Linked DNA regions of Homo sapiens: region 1 is linked to region 2. Evidence: fine-mapped expression QTL. A gene starts in region 2. The other region holds a variant in brackets. All regions are shown on one strand. Distances are from middle to middle. Region 1 has its middle 23 kb from the start of AK3. Region 2 holds the start of GLIS3-AS1 (GLIS3 antisense RNA 1).

Region 1 (2,920 bases), 860 kb before region 2:
ACAGTGGCTCATGCCTGTAATCCCAGCACTTTGGAAGGCCGAGGAGGGCGGATCACGAGGTGAAGAGATCGAGACCATCTGGCCAACATGGTAAAACCCCGTCTCTACTAAAATTACAAAAATTAGCTGGGCATGGTGGTGCGCTTCTGTAGTCCCAGCTACTCAGGAGGCTAAGGCAGGAGAATCGCTTGAACCCAGGAGGCGGAGCTTGCAGTGTGCCGACATTGTGCCACTGTACTCCAGCCTGGCGACAAAGTGAGACTCCGTCTCAAAAAAAAAAAAAAAAAAAAAAAAAAACAGAAAGAGAAACCAGACTTGGGACCAGGCACAGTGGCTTATGTCTGTAATCCCACCACTTTGGGAGGCTGAGATGGGAGGACTGCTTGAGGCCAGGAGTTCAAGACCAACTTGGCCAACATAACAAGTCTCCATCTCTGTTTTTTGAGACAGGTTCTTGCTCTGTCACCCAGGCTGGAGTGCAATGGCATGATCTCCACTCACTGCAACTTCCACCTCCTGGGATCAAGTTATTCTCCTGCTTCAGCCTCCCGATTAGCTGGGATTACAAGCACGTGCCAGCACTCCCAGCTAATTTTTTGTATTTTTAGTAGAGACGGGGTTTCACCATGTTGGCCAGGCTGGTCTCGAACTCCTGACCTCGTGATCTGCCCACCTTGGCCTCCCAAAGTGCTGGGATTACAGGCATGAGCCACCATGCCCAGCCTGACTCCATCTCTATTTTTTAAAAATAAAATAAATAGAAACCAGTATTGGGCATCATTGATCTCAGGCCCTCTCAGGGCACAGAAGTAGGGAATATAAGGATGTGTGTACACACATACACAAAATCATACATGCATTTACCCTTATATTTCTCTACATACGTAATAAAATATGGATCTTATTAGTTTGTTTATTGAAAACCATGACTTCATACCAATACTTCTCATTCCAACCTAACACAGTTTTCATTCTAGTTTTCTGTCCATAATTTATTTTTTTGAGATGGGGTCTTGCTCAGTTGCCCAGGCTGTAGTACAGCCTCAATCTCCTGGGCTCAAGTGATTCTCACACCTCAGCCTCTTTCCTTGAGATGGCATACAGGTGCATGCCACCACACCTGGCTAATGTTTTCTTAATTTCTGTGGAGACGGGATCTCGCTATGTTGACCAGGCTGGTCTCAAACTCCTGGCCTCAAACAATCCTTCTGCCTCAGCCTCTTAATGTGGTGGGATTACAGGAATGATTTGTTAACTGTCTTCTCCAACAGCGAGAAACTTTGCTCCCATTATCCTTAATATTGTACATTTACATACATGTCCTTGGAGATACCTTTCTCTCCCCACTGGGACTCCAACACCCTGTGGCAGACTGCCTCTCTGCCGGGACACCCCTCACCACAATTGGGTTCTGACACTCTGGCCTGGACTTGCCCCTGAATGTATGCTTTCTGATCCTGGTCAGGTTCCGGCCACCACAGCTCACCTCCACCCCACTCATAGCTGCCTATCTTGCTCGACCCTGCACCTGATGACTTTTGCACCTGATTTTTCAAGGAAGGAAAAGAGGAACTATATAGCTTTTCTCTTATTACTTTTAAGCACTTCCATTTCATTTATACTTGGTCATTCAGAAATTAAGAGTTATTTCTACCATGCACTATTCTTAAACTCTGTGATGCCTTTAAAGAGTGCCTCTTCAGTGAGACTGGGTCTATGCTGAGAGTAGAGGTCCTGCCTCCTCCCCCTTTTTCCTGTCCACCACATT[C/G]CTCTGTCTGCCCAGAGTAGGGAAGGCTGCAAACCCTCCCCCCGCCTTCCTCCTAGGAGGTCGCTGCCTGAAAGCTCTGTCCTGCCCGGAGGAAACCAGCTCAGCCTCCAGCTCTGGCCTGGCCTGATAGTCTGCCAGTAGCCAGGCCAGCTCTATCAGTTCTGTGCACGGGGATGCCCTGCGCGGAGGGGAGGGAGGAGGGGGAGAAAGAGTTGCCCGTGGGGCCTCAGGCCTTTGCTGTGCCTCAGTTCCCACACCTCAGAAGAATAAAGTACTCAACCCAGAAGAAAGACTCGGGCTTCCAGACTTTGGTTTGTGAGAGCAACGACATTCAAGGGTTACTCACGTAGACATTTAACAACCCGTAAAGGGAACTGGATGACAGAAATTACAGGATGGCTCCACCCTCGCGAAATGACATATTCATTTGAATGCTTGGGTAATTTCACAACAGGCAGTGCTGGTGGGGAGCAGGTTTTCCTCACTGAAGATGGAAATAAGGGTAATTGCTAATTTCCTTCCCCTGACCTTCATGACCTGCCCAGCTGTCTGCTGCCACCAGCCTCCTTCCACGGCTTTTCTTGTCTAAGGCTTCATGCCTTAAGAAATCAATTTACTCAGCTTTGTTCTGGGCCAGGTGAGAAAAAAAAATCAATGTATTCATACAAGTGGGACAATTGCAAACAAACGGAGTAAGAAAAAATAAATTCAGTTATGTAGTATTTGAGGCTTGAATTCGAGTAAATCAACCAAACTTCCTCCTCGCTTCAGGTAAAAGCATTTGTTGTTGACACAGCGCCACCTGATGGCAACTGGAATCTTGGCAGGAAATAGTCACCTGTCATTCCAACGTTATGCTGCTCATTTCACCTTTTTGTGTGTGTGTGTGTGTGATGGAGTCTCGCTCTGTCGCCAAGGCTGGAGTGCAGTGGCATGATCTCGGCTCCCTGCAACCACCGCCTCCCGGGTTCAAGCGAGTCTCCTGCCTCAGGTTCCTGAGTATCTGGGACTACAGGCGTGTGCCACCACGCCCAGCTAATTTTTTGTATTTATAGTAGAGACGGGGTTTCACCGTGTTAGCCAGGGTGGTCTCGGTCTCCTGACCTCGTGGTCTGCCCGCTTCAGCCTCCCAAAGTGCTGAAATTACAAGCG
Region 2 (2,920 bases):
CTAGACTGTTTGTACCAATATTCACTCCTATGAACATTGTTGAACAATGCCTCTCTCACTGTACCTTCATTACTGTTTTTTTTTAAGTTTTTGATAATTCAGCAAGTAAAAAGACGTTTTAACATTGCACTTCTTTGCAAGTGTGCAAACATTTTTCACGCTTATTATCATTTCTGTTTCTCCTTTTTTTTTTTTTTTTAACAGTTTCTGTTCAAGTCAAGGCTTTATCCAACGTCTCCTTCCCATTTCCACCTCCCCACCTTTTATCTCTGGTTTCATCTTCTATTTCTCTTCCCCAGGCCCCAGGCTCACCCTGCTTGACTCTTACTTCTCCGCACAACCACAGGGTAGGCAGGTTCTTCCCCCATAGGTCTGTACGGCTTATTCCTCACTTCTTTCAAAGCTTTTTATAAATGCCATCTTCAAGAGGCTTTCCTTGATCTCCTATCTAAAGCTGCCACCCCTTATTCCTACTCACTGTCTCGCTTCTCCGCATCACTTTTCTCCATAGCATTTATCACCATCTGAGGTTGTATATGTTTTATTTGTTCATCATCTGCTTCCCCATCTAGAGTCTAACTTTGACAAAAGCAGTCAGTATTCCTAGGGTCTAGAGAAGTATGTAACAAACACTTAATAAATATTTGTTGACTGCATAAGCATACTCTAGCTCTATATCTAAAGGTTTAGTCTTGTCTTTATAAAATCCATTTATACACACACTCTTTAAATACCAAAGATGATTACCATTTGCAATATTTGTAACAAATACATTTCTAGATTGCTTTTAAGGTATTATGTTTTTGTACAAGCAGAACGTTAATATTTTTATGTCACTAAATCTTACATTGTTTTTTTTTTCCATTTCAATTACACTTAAAAAATTCTTATTCATTAAAAGATCAGATAACTTTTCACCTAGTTTATTTTAGCATTTTTTATTGTTTGATTTTTTTTTTACATGTAACTCTTTAATGTATAAGATCTAAATTGTTCTGTTTTTATGTAACTGACTGTTGGAGTTTTGTTACTGTTAATCACATTGTTTTATCTTTGAATCATGCCATAATATATTAAAATTTAACTTGAGTATTTTCCTTTCATGGAAAATCTATAGGAGTTAAATCTCAATGGGCATTTCTTAATCATCTCTGGGATGTTTTCATGACAGTGTTTCTATTTTAAAAGCACTTTCCAAGATGGACTAAATCTACTTGAGTTTGTTGTTGTTATCGTTACAAGTTCTGATAAGATACGGAGCAAATAAAAGGAAGTATAATAGGAAGTTGAGTTGCCAGAAGTGGAAATATCAAGGACTGAAGTCAAATCCGCCTCTAGCCACATTTTTCCAGAAGCTCTTGCCAGGTGTTATTAGGATTGGAGAACTGATCCTTTTATTGACACTCTGTTAAGCTCTGTGCCTTACCCGTAGTTGCTGCTTGATAAATTTTTGTGGGCTGAGTTGCACTGATAGAGCATGATGCCTTCCCAGGAAAATATTCCAAGGACCGGCTCTCCTTATCGATGTCTCTTCCGTTTTGTCCTCTTAGTTGCGGTCCAGCACAGAGCTCCATCCAGACCTGCTCACAGATTGCCTCACCGTGCAGTCCCTGCAGCCGGCCACTTCCCCTAGAGATGCTGCTGCTGAAGGGACCGTGGGACGCTCCCCTGGACCCGGGCCTGACCTCTATTCAGGTAAAGACAGCAAAGGCAGAGCCAACCACAACTACCCTTTTTTAGGCCTTTTACTCTGGTTAAAAGGAATGCTCACGTGAGAAAAATTTTCCTAAGATCGTCTGTGTTGTTCTTTATCAATGGGCTGCAAATTGCTCTCCACCCCTTCTGATTCCTGAGCTGGGTGTGGCAGCAGATTGTTTTTTCTCATAAAGAAATAAAATAAAATAATGCATTACCTCTTTTAGTTATGGACTTCTGCCAGAAATTCAGTGTACCCAACCCTCGCAGTTATGTTACATTTACTCACTTGATTTAGACTCGAAGGAAATGTTTCCTCCTTAAGCAGGTAGCAGGCTGCGTGTGGATTTCTTAATGAAACAGTTGTTGTCATCTTTATGTTTTAAAAGGAAGCCCCAGGTCTCTAAGGAAATTTTCACATCAGCAAACCAACTTATAAGAATGTTCATTCATGTTTGCCAACCATTGTGGGAAAGGAGATGGGATGACACTCCCAGACCACCTTCCATCTGCCTAGGTTTGAATAATAGGTGACTATATTTGGAAAATTACATGTATGTAGTAAAAAACAAAAAAAATAAGAAAAGATTAATATACCATAAGGAAGTTATTTTTCTTTTACTCAGCCTGGATTTTTATGCATTTTCTACTCTCTGTAATGGTGATATACTTATGCAAACATAATTAGTGATTGTCCTTACATATGGAACACTCTTACAGTCATGCTATGAAGATGAGAAAAAAGATTTACCAGCTCCACATTCCAGACAATGAGAATTTTCTATTTTCTGTGGGTTGCAGATACTACCCCCACCCCCATCTGATTCCAGAGCCAGGTTTGGCAGCAGACTGTTTTTTTCTTTCGAAAAGTATGAATAAGCCATTAGAATTTAAAATTTACAGATGCATTGCAGTGGAATGGGAGAAAGACATCCTTGTACAACGTTTTAAATTTGACAGTTCTCAGTTGATTCAGATGCAGAGAGAAAGGGCAGTAAGCAAGTATTGCAAGAGCATCAGTCATCAAAACTGGGCCTTAATCATGGCCCATTGGACCTTTATCAGTTGCTTTAAGCACTTACTGTTGGGGACAACATAGCCTCTGCTTTTTGAGACACAGGGAGATGAGACGAAGAAGGGTTGACCAAACTTACAGAGGTTTCAGGTACAGGTTCATATACAGACATCAAATATATCAATGTGCAGTGTTACCAACACATACATA

Evidence for each region. PIP is the estimated chance that this variant, and not a neighbour inherited with it, causes the effect.
Region 1: its variant is fine-mapped to the expression of GLIS3-AS1 in atrial appendage (GTEx, PIP above 0.99).

Annotation. Positions count from the first base shown.
Region 1 is chr9:4,762,375-4,765,294 of GRCh38, reverse strand. No RefSeq gene overlaps it. Among named protein-coding and RNA genes, the nearest start is that of AK3, 23 kb to the right of the region's middle. RefSeq lists an enhancer at 1,428-2,366. The variant C/G (reference allele first, on the strand shown) is at 1,769.
Region 2 is chr9:3,897,466-3,900,385 of GRCh38, reverse strand. It overlaps GLIS3-AS1 (GLIS3 antisense RNA 1), which reads right to left and starts at 1,740. Exons shown (of 2, transcript NR_026663.1): 1 at 1,427-1,740. GLIS3 (GLIS family zinc finger 3) reads left to right here. Exons shown (of 11, transcript NM_001042413.2): 7 at 1,551-1,695.